Linked DNA regions of Homo sapiens. The protein of the gene in region 1 interacts with the protein of each later gene in a biochemical or structural test. Each region holds a gene or a part of one and is shown on either strand. Other genes may lie near its edges. The genes, in order: APBA3, RSBN1 and LSM14A.

What was found.
Region 2: the proteins of APBA3 (region 1) and RSBN1 interact in a test that uses a peptide from one of them, tested with the Homo sapiens proteins (one large-scale study listed by IntAct).
Region 3: the proteins of APBA3 (region 1) and LSM14A interact in a test that uses a peptide from one of them, tested with the Homo sapiens proteins (one large-scale study listed by IntAct).

What each region holds. Positions count from the first base shown.
Region 1 is NC_000019.10:3,751,693-3,755,343, forward strand, and holds part of APBA3 (amyloid-beta A4 precursor protein-binding family A member 3), read right to left. Parts: intron 2,649-3,651; coding exon 2,503-2,648; intron 2,414-2,502; coding exon 2,327-2,413; intron 2,235-2,326; coding exon 2,073-2,234; intron 1,299-2,072; coding exon 1,128-1,298; intron 1,029-1,127; coding exon 816-1,028; intron 1-815. UniProt on the Homo sapiens protein: May modulate processing of the amyloid-beta precursor protein (APP) and hence formation of APP-beta. May enhance the activity of HIF1A in macrophages by inhibiting the activity of HIF1AN.
Region 2 is NC_000001.11:113,805,890-113,809,540, forward strand, and holds part of RSBN1 (lysine-specific demethylase 9), read right to left. Parts: intron 1-3,651. UniProt on the Homo sapiens protein: Histone demethylase that specifically demethylates dimethylated 'Lys-20' of histone H4 (H4K20me2), thereby modulating chromosome architecture.
Region 3 is NC_000019.10:34,178,905-34,182,555, reverse strand, and holds part of LSM14A (protein LSM14 homolog A), read right to left. Parts: intron 1-3,651. UniProt on the Homo sapiens protein: Essential for formation of P-bodies, cytoplasmic structures that provide storage sites for translationally inactive mRNAs and protect them from degradation. Acts as a repressor of mRNA translation. May play a role in mitotic spindle assembly.

The DNA.
Region 1 (3,651 bases):
TGATAGAGAACAGACTCGGGCCCGGTGGGCATGGGGTCGAAGCTGTCTGACCCGAGCCATATCGCTTCCTTATGGCCAAAAGCCAAGCCGACAGCCGGGCTCTCCAGGCAGGCTGCAAACATCTGTAAGAGGCTGCACGGACTGTGGCCTCATTCCTCTGACGGGGGCAGGTCCCTCCCTATCTCTGGGCCTCAGTTTCCCCATCTGAGCAACAAAGGTTGAGACTCAAAAACATGGCCAGGTGCAGTGGCTCACACCTGTAATCCCAGCACTGTGGGAGGCCGAGGCAGGTGGATCACTTGAGGCCAGGAGCTCAAGACCAGCCTGGCCAACCAACATAGTGAGACTCCATCTCTACAAAAAATAAAACAATAAACTGGGCGTGGTGGTGCACACCTGTGGTCCCAGCTACTCGGGAGGCTGAGGAAGGAGATTTGCTTGAGCCCAGAAGGTCAAGGCTGCAATGAGCCAGGTGCACCGCTGCACTCCAGCCTGGGCAAGAGTGAGACCTTGTCTCAAACAAACAAACCCCCCCAGAAATTAGCTGTTTCTTGTTAGAGAGAGAGAGTGGCCCAGCCCTGGAGCTGGGCCACCCGCATTTCCATCCTGGCTCTGGTACTAGGGAGGTGCCCTGGACAAGTGGCCTCCCTTCTCCAGGCCTCAGTTTCCCCAAGGGCACACCAGTGGGCAGGACTTAAAAGTTCGACTTTGTCCCTCCTGGCTGGGCTGGAGAGACCTGGCCAGGGAGGAGACCTCTCTGGGACTCAGCTCCCCTTCCTGGGAGTGTGGGGGCCCTGCCACACCAGGAAACTCACGCGGACAGCGGCCTGGCACGCAGCCAGGGGCAGCCCCACCAGGCTGGTCCCGTTGATGGCGGTCAGGCGGTCCCCGATGCTGAGGGCCCCCGAGCGCTCAGCAGGCCCCCCGTGCAGCAGGTTGGCGATGACGGCTGTGGGCAGCAGGGAGCCCCAGCCCGACTCCACCAGGGCCACGCCCAGGCCCTCCCCTCGCCGCTTCTCGAGGTGCACCTGGGACACACAGGGGGCGCGGAGGCTGCTCAGCAGGGCCCGGTGCAGGTGCACGGGTGTGGGGGGCACCAGGTGGGGGCTGCCCAGCACCTCACTCACCTCCCGGCAGTTGTCACTGTTGGAGAAGTGGTCCAGGTCCCCATTATGGAGGTGGCAGGCGCCTGGGCTCGGGTGCACGCCCACCTGGCTGGGGTCAATACCGCTTTCCCGTAGGAACTGGCTGTAGGCGGCGGCGAAGGCCTGGCCAATGGCCTGGGCGATGAGCTGGGCCTGCGGGGAGGAGTGGCGCGTCCCTGGGGTGTCCCACCCACCTCCTCCAGGTCCCCAAAGTCCCCAGGGTCCTCAGAGCTGAGCCCTCCTGTCCCCACCTGGGGTGAGAGTCCCAGGACACAGCCTTCTGCCCTGGGGCTTTGGGGGAGGTGGAGAGACAGCCGCATCTTGGGGAATCTACGGGGAGAAGGAAGGGGAGGGGCAGCCCTGGGCTGGGGGGACGATGAGGGAGGCAGCTCCCTGCGCATGGGCTGTGGGAAAAGCTATCAAAGACCCAGCCAGGGGGCCTGGGGCCTCATGGGTGGCAGGGACAGCCCAGGAGCGGGCAAGGTTTCGGGGAGTCGGCCGAGAGTCTTGGAGTCTTATAGGAGGCTGGACGCGGTGGCTCACGCCTGTAATTGCAGCACTTTGGGAGGCTGAGGTGGGTGGATCGCTTGAGCCCAGGAGTTTGAGACCGTGTTCACCTGGGCAACAGAGCGAGACCGTGTCTCTATAAAAAATACAAAAATTAGCCAGGCATGGTGATACCCCGGTGGTCCCAGCTACTAGAGAGGCTGAAGTGGGAGGATCGCTTGAGCCTGGAAGGTTGAGGCTGCAGTGAACTATGATTGCGCCACTGCACTCCAGCCTGGGTGACAGAAGGAGACCTTGTCCCAAAAAAAGAATTTAAAAATAAGCTTATGGGAGGGAGGTTAAATGCACGGCCCACTGAGGGAGGCGACAGTTGCAGTGAGGAGGGCCTCAGGAGGGTGGCCCCGCGCCCTGGCTGCTCACGTCCTCCGCGTAGAATACGTGGCAGAGCATCTTGTAGAGGCGGCGGCCGTGGTCCTGGGGTGCCGGCCTCCGTGCCAGCCGCCGCCGCGCCATCAGCACCAGCACGCAGCCGATGTCGGCTGTGTAGGAGATGGTATGCAGGGCGTGGTCCATCATGGCCTCCTGGGGCGGGAGAGGCAGCCTGGGTGGGTTGGGGGGCCGTGCCAGGCTCGATCACCCCACCCGCATCCCTGGGGCGGGTCCCTGCCCCGTACCTGGGAGTCCGCTGTCAAGACCTTGATCCTCTTGGTGGAGACGAACAGGTCCACCTCCGTCATGGGCTGGGTCTCCCCATCGGGGGCCTGTGGGTGGCGGCGTGGGAGGTGGAGGCCCCCACAGACCCAGCCTGCAGCCCACCCGCCTGCCCGCCCGGCCCCGGCCGCCCCCTCACCTTGACGCGGTCCATGGCCTCCCGGGCCTGGGCCATGCGCGTGCTGGTGGGCGGGTTCCGTTCCGACACCAGCTGGGTGGACCCCAGGTACCTGGCCCCAAATATGACACCGTCCAGGAGGTCTTCATGGTCACAGGGACCAGGCACTGAGGGCGACAGCGAAGAGGGTCGGCCCCCAGGGGCCCACTCCCACAGGCTCTGCCCCAGGGCTACGCTCTCCGAGATGGCCGGGAGACACAGTGTTCTAGCTGGTGGCTTAGCACTCTCCAGCCAGGAAGCACAGCCCACTGTTCTAGAACCATCCAAGCAGCCTGGCCCTCACAGGTCTAGAACCTTCTGTCCATCCCTCAAGGACTCGCAGGTGGGAAACCAGTGAGTCCAGGCCATGGCTGGATTCAAAGCCAGATCTAGCACCCACAGATACCTTCACCCCGTGTCCCCAGAATTCCATGATCAGGCCGGAACCAGACAGTCCCACTCCTGCTTTTTTGAGACACGGTCTCGCTCTGTCGCCCAGGCTGGAGCTCGGTGGTGTGATCTCAGCTCACTGCAACCTCCGCTTCCTGGGTTCAAACGATTCTCCTGCCTCAGTCTCATGAGTAGCTGGGATTACAGGCGCCCACCACCACGCCTGGCTAGTTTTTGTATTTTTAGTAGAGACGGGGTTTCGCCACGTTGGCCAGGCTGGTCTCAAACTCCCGACCTCAAGTGATCCACCCGCCTTGGCCTCCTAAAGTACTGGGATGACAGGCGTGAGCCACGACGCTCCACCCCCCACTCCAATTTCGAAACCTCCACAACATTCTAGAACCACAGTGGACCCCTGCTTCTTGGTTCTGGAATTCCCTCCATCAATCTAGAACTGGCCAGCTCTGCCCACTGTTCTAGAACCGTCTGCAGTCAGCCCAGGATAGCAGGCAGCTCTGTTCCCGGGTTGTAGAACCACTCAGAACAGAGACAGACCCTGCTGCCTGTCTAAAATTCCCATACTCTCCAGAACCCCAGCTGGTTCTGACCCTTGATTCCAGAACTCTCTGACAGGTCTCATAGCAATTCTGTCAGGAGTTTTAGAATCTTATTATCACTCTAGAATCAGACTTCTCTGCTCCGTGATTCCAGAACATCTTAATCACAATCGCGTCAGGCAGC
Region 2 (3,651 bases), on another chromosome or scaffold:
TCTCAATTACTGTATTCTGCTACTGTAGTGCAAAAACTACCATAGACAATATATATGAATGAACAGAGCTATATTCCAATAAAGCTTTATTTCTGGACACAGTTTAAATTTCGTATGATTTCCATGCGCTACAAGGTCGTTCCAACTATTTTAAATTGTAAAAACCATTGTTAGGCCAGGCACAGTGGCTCATGCCTGTAATCCCAGCACTTGTGGGAGGCACATCACCTGAGGTCAGGAGTTTGAGACCAGTCTGGCCAACATGGTGAAACCCCATCTCTACTAAAAATACAAAATTAGCTGGGTGTGGTGGTGGGCGCCTGTAATCCCAGCTACTCAGGAGGCTGAGGCATAAGATTCCCATGAACCCAGGAGGTGGAGGTTGCACTGAGCTGAGATCACACCACTGCACTCCAGCCTGGCACAGAGCGAGACTCTGTCTCAAAAAAAAAAAAAAAATCATTGTTACATTACAGGTTGTACTGATTTTTGAAAAAAGTGCAAAAGCAATTCAATGGAAGATTAATCTTTTCAACAAAAGGTGCTAGAGCAACTGGATATCCTTAGGCAAGAAGAAAAAAAATGGCGACCTAAACCTCACACCTGTACAAAATTAACTCAAATGGATGACAGATTAAAATACAAAAGTTAAAATTATAAAACTTTTAGAAGAAAACAAAGGAGAAAATCTTTGGGATCTAGGACTTGGTATGTTAGATATGATGCCAAAAACATGATCCATTAAAGAAAAAAAAAAACTTAGTAAATTGGATATCAACAAAATTTAAAATTTTTGCTCTGTGAAGTATCCCACTGAGAAGGTAGAAAGGACCAGGCACAGTGGCTCCTGTCTGTAATCCCAACACTTTGGTAGGCCAAGGCGGGAGGATCACTTAAGCCCAGGAGTTTGAGACCAGCCTGGACAACACAGAGAGACCCTGCCTCTATCAAAAAAAAAAAAAAAAAAAAAAACATTAGCCAGGTGTGGTGGTGCACACGTGTGGTCTCAGCTACTCAGGAGGTTGAGGTGGGAGGATCACTTGAGCCCCAGAGGTTGAGGCTAGAGTGAGCCATGATCACATCACTGTGCTGCAGCCTGGGTAACTGAGTGAGACCCTCCCCAAAAAAACAAAAACAAACAGGCTGGGCGTGGTGGCTCATGCCTGTAATCCCAGCACTTTGGGAGACCAAGGCGGGCGGATCACCTGAGGTCAGGAGTTCAAGACCAGCCTGACCAATATGGCGAAACCCCGTCTCTACTGAAAAACACAAAAATTAGCCGGGCATGGTGGCAGATGCCTGTAATCACAGCTACTCGGGAGGCTGACATAGGAGAATCGCCTGAACCCAAGAGGTGGAGGTTGCAGTGAGCCAGGATCGTGCTACTACACTCCAGCCTGGGTGACAAAGTGAGAATCCATCTCAAAAAAAAAAAAAAACAACCAAAATAAAAACAAGCAAACAAACAAAAAGGATGGAAAGACAAGCAACAGATTGGGAGAAAATATGTGCAAACCATACAAAGAAGCTGCACCTGTGATCTACAAAAAATTATCAAAACCCAGTAATAAAAAATATACAATTCAAGGGCCGGGCGCAGTGGCTCACGCCTGAAATCCCAGCACTTTGGGAGGCTGAGGCGGGTGGATCACCTGAGGTCAGGAGTTCGAGAACAGCCTGGCCAACACAGTGAAACCCCGTCTCTACTAAAAATATAAAAAAGTAGCTGGGTGTGGTGGCAGGCACCTGTAATCCCAGCGATTCGGGAGGCTGAGGCAGGAGAATCGCTTGAACCCGGGAGGCAGAGGTTGCAGTGAGCCGAGATTGCACCATTGCTCTCCAGCCTGGGCAACAAGAGTGAAATTCTGTCTCAAAAAAAAAAATTATATATATATATATATGTATATGTATACACACACACACACACACACACACACAAAATTCAATTAGAAAATAGGCAAAAGGTATAAAGAGACATTTTACTGACCAGGATATATAGACAGCAAATGATGATATGAAAAGATGTGTATTATCACTAGCCATTTGGGAAATGCAAATTAAGATCATGATGATGTATCACCACACGTCTATTAAAATTGCTAAAATAAAAATAGTGACAATACCAGATACTGGCAAGAATGTGGAGAAAATGGATTTCTCTTACACCGCTGACAGGAATGTAAAATGGTACCGACACTCCAGAAAATACTTTGGCAGTATCTTAAAAAACAAACAAACAAAATAAATATATATAGTCATCCTTGGTATCCATGGAGGATTGGTTCCAGAGCCTCCCAGGGCAACAAAATCCAAGATGATCAAGTCCTTCATATAAAATGGCATAATAATTGCTTATAACCTATGCACATCCTCCCCTATATTTTAAATCATCTCCAGATTATTTATACCTAATACAATGTACATGCTATATAAATAATTGTTATACTGTATTGTTTAGGGAACAGTGACAAGAAAAAAAAAGTCTGCACAAGTCCAGTACAGACAATGTTTTTTTGAAAATATTTTCAATCCCAGGTTGGCTGAATCCATTGATGTGGAACCCATGGATACAGAGGGCTAATTGTATTTACCATACGACCAAAGAAATGAAAAGTTACATGCACACAAAAACCTGAACACCAATTTTCATAGAAGCTCTATCTATAATAGCCAAAAACTAGAAATAATCAAAATGTCCTTTCTTATACGGGAATGATTCAATAGGTGAACCATGGTACATCCATACCATGGAACACTATTCGGCAATGAAAAAGAGGGATGGATCTCAGGGACATCACACTGAGTGAAAAAGGGCAATCTCCAAAGATCACATACTGTATGATTCAACTTATATAATAGTCTCAAAATGACAAAACAGGTTAGTGGCTGCCAGAGGACAGGGACAGTAGAGAGACAGAGGGAGTGCCTAAGGCTGTAAAGGGTTTGTGGTGGTGGAACAGTTCTGTATCTTGATTGTAGTGGTGGTTACACTAATCTACATATGATAAAATAGCATATAACTACATATACATTGTACCAATGTCAATTTCCTGGTGTTGATATTATACAATAGTTATGTAAGATGTAGCCACTGAGGGAAACTGGTAAAAGGTAAGGACTTGACTATGTTTGCAATTTCCTGTGAATCATTAATTATCTAAAAAAAAAAAACAGTTAAAATAGTTTCCAAAAATCTGAGGATAAGCGAAGGAAGGACATAGCTTTGTAAGTAACAAGAATCTGCCCACTCTCCTTATTAATCTTAGAGTTGTTTTAGGGACCATGCATAATAAAATAATAAAGGCCGGTTTTAAGTAAGTGCCTACAATGAGCCAGGCACTGCTGTAAGTACTTTCACACAATGCCCTATTTAATCCACACAAGTTCCTTATAAATGAAATACCACAACCCCATTTTATAGACAGGAAAAGTGCAGTTGAGAGAGGGTAAAGCAATTTGTTCAGGCTCACACAGTAAGTGTTAGAGCCATGATTTAAACTCAGATTAATACCAGAGGCATGCCTCCTGCATACCACTGTAACAATAAAGATGTTCAGAGGACAAAAAAGATATCAGTCAAACTATGTGCAAAAGCCTGGATTAAACAAAGTTAAACCAGTTTATTTTCTGTAGGGTTTTCAAAACTTTTAA
Region 3 (3,651 bases), about 30 Mb from region 1:
GAGAGTTGACTCTTCAGATTCACAAGGTCCACAGAGAAACACTCAGAGGAAAAATCAAACCAAACCAAAAAACAAACAAACAACAACAAACCAGTGTGATCACATTTGTGAATTCCAGGAATAGAGAATTCTAAATAAAAGCTTCCAGAGAGAAAAGTGACTGAGAGTCAGACTGGCATCAGCAACCCCAGAATATTAGAAGAACAAAAAGCAGTAACTTCAAAGTTCCACAGAAAAAAGACTCTTAATTTGGAAATACATAGCCAACCAACCAGTCAAGCACAAGAAAACATAGGTTCACTAAGAAAATTTGTCACCTACATTTCCCATATATTTTATTTTTTAATTACAAAGATTCACTCAAGTAAAATTGGGAGGAGGAGAAAGAATCAACTGAGAGGTCAATATTGGAAACAAGAAACAGGAATCTGAGTATCTCTGAATAGACTAGTGAGAGATAATGGACCAGGGTAGTAGGGGTGGTCAGAGGTCAAATTCTGCATCTAGTTTGAAAGCAGAGCTGATAGGTTCGGATCACATGAGGTGAGACAGAGAGAGAGGAATTAAGGATGGCTCCAAGGTGTTTTGGTCTTACCAACTAGAATAGAGCTGTCATTTGATTAGATGGGGAAGGCTGATGGAGGAACAGGTTTGGAGCATGCTGAATTGAGATTCTAGCAGACTTCCCTACAAGTAGAGATGTTAAAGAGGCAATGGATATACAAGTCAGGAGTTCAGAGGAGAAATTCAGGCTAGAGATAGGAGTCAGTGATATACAGGTAGTATTTGAAACCAGGAACTAGATGGATGAGATCATCAAAAGAATGCAGATGATTAAATAAATGTTAACAGACAGAGAGAAAAGGGGAGATAACTGAGCCCTGGAGCTCTCCCAACATTTGGCGGCTTACAGGTTCAATCAGCCAAGGAGATTGAGAGGTAACCAGTGAGATATGAGGAAAAAAATGGCATACGATCAAGTTAAGAAAATGCTTCACAGAGAACAGACTAACTGTACCACGTAATGCTGACTGGTGAAGTAGAATGAGACTAAGAACTAACTACTGGATTTGGTAACATGGAAATCTTTGGTAATTTTGATAAGAAAACTTCATATGTAGGAATAAAAACCTTAGTAAACAGGGCTCAAAAATGAATGAACACCAGTGGTGTAGACAACTTCTTCAAGGGGTTTCGCTATAAAGGGAAGGATAGAAATGGGGTAATCATTAGAAAAGAGGAAATTCAGTTCAAGTACAGTGGGGTTTTTTGGTTGTTCTTAAGGTAGAAGAAATAACTGCCTATCTGTAAGCAGACAGAAAGATACGTTAGGGAAGGAAAAACTGAGGAGAGTAGAGAACTGCTGGAGCAATGTTCTTGAATCACCAAGAGGGGACAAATGCTGCACAAGTGGAAGGGTGGTCTTAGACAGAAATAAGAACAGTTTATCCATATTGATCAGAAAAAAACATAGAAGTCTGGGGAACAGATGCAGGTAACTGGGTATGTGAGGGGTAAGTTTATCAAAATTATCTTTCGTTTGCTGTTCTTTTCTCAGTTAACTGCTATAGAAAGCACGGTTAAGGGGCTGAAAGTGAATATGGGGGAGGTGTTGGAGGCTTGAGGAAAATGAATGGAATAGCCATGTAGAAAAGTGAAATGGATTATGGAAGTATAGTGTGACTGCTAGGAAGTGACCATGACTGCGGAGGCTAGCGAACATAAATTTAGAGTGAGGCTGGTCAGCACATCTGTGTTGATATAATCAGGGTTGTGATTTCTTGTATAAGACAGCAAGAGGGGAATGGGGTGGGGGCTGAGGGAATGTGTACTGACTGTCGTGGTTGCTCATGGAGTTGAAGCAGGATAAAGAAGGAAGTAAAGTTATGAGGGGAATGAGAGGACAGTGAAAGGCAGTAAGATGACAGTAGACTACAGTAGGTGTGAATGACTGACTGAGTTGGGCTACTAGAGAGACTGAGCACCTAGACAGAGAGGGAGATCGTGGTGGGAAATAACATGGGACAGCTATTCTCTATTAAGCACCAACATTAAACTAGTTACTTCTTTTATATCACCTCATTTAATTATCAGAATGACTCTGAAAGATGGGCATTATTATCCATCCCTATTGAAAAGATGAAGAAGTTAAAGCTAAGGTTAAATAACTTGTCCAAGACCAAAAAGCTGCTAAGTATTCCAACTGGCATTTTGGGTCGCATTTTCTTCCAGAAAAAAACAAACAAACAAAAAACCCTACAAAACTAGAATAAGGCCCTTGGGAATAAATTATTTTACAGACCAACTCACACTTTGTCCACTAAAAAACTTACTTCAAGCCAGACACTGTGGCTCACACCTGTAATCCCAGCACTTTGGGAGGCCAAGGCAGGCAGATCACTTGAGCCCAGGAGTTAGAGACCGACCTGGGCAGCATGGCAAAACCCTGTATCTACAAAAAACAGAAAATTAGCTGGGTGTGGTGGTGTGTGCCTGTGGTCCCAGCTACTTGGGAGGCTGAGGCAGGAGGATTACCTGAGCCCAGGGAGGTCAAGGCTGTGATCGTGCCACTGCACTCCAGCCTGGGCAACAGAGTGAGACTCTTGTCTCAAAACAACAACAACAAAATTTACTTCAATGGTATCTAGTTTTTAAAACAGCTAATTAATATATTATTTTATAGCATCATGAGAGAAAGACAAATTGTTTCTATAGCAAGCATCTTCTAGCACGGAATAATTAAATTCAAGTTAAACTATCTGTAGTTACTGCTATTATTACTGTGGCACTGAGTTAAATACAAAACTCCTGCTATGTATCATGCACAGATAAGATTTCTTTTTTCTTCCTACTTCCTTCCTTCTACTATTTTTTTTCTTCAGTTTTATGCTGTTTTCTTTACTTCCGACTTAGAAAATCATGGCTTACCTTACTTACCCCTACTAGAAAATGAACAGTTTCTGGCACCTGACTTCAGACTCCCAGAATTACCAAGTATTTCTGCGGACTATGTAACAATAATAAACTGTTTCCAAGGCTCCAAGTACTGGCAACATCACTAAATAGGGCAACAAAAAGAAACTGTGGCTTGAAGTTTCACTAGATCTTTGTCATTTTAGATAGTAATTTTGTGAATTGCTAGATTTAGATCCCCAAGTAATGCAAGAAATCAAATAAAGCACCCCGCAAGTATTTTATCCATCACACAAAGCTCTTCCACTCTCTCCAATAAGGTAATAGTTTATGACTATGTGACTAACATCAAGAAGTAGATAAATTATGCCAATGAGCCAGACTTAGCAGATGATTAAAGAAATCTGTTAACAATTTACTTGTTTTTCTATTCTTCCACCAATCTCTTGATTTTAAGAACAACTTATTTTAAAGGCAAGTGGCTTATATAATCGTTCTTCATAAAGTCTCTTTTCCCAGTGCAGTAGCAACCTGGTTTCCATTTGAATGATTATCCAGGTAAGCTAACTAAATGTAAGAATTTATTTTTTATAAGAATTTCATTCATTTTAGCCTATTTAGGCATCCTACTCACTTATAGACGTAGGTGCAAACACAACTGGAACTATTCCATAAAATATTCATACATGTCACCACTGTGTAATTTCTTCCTACACCCTGAATGGAGGCTTCCTTTAA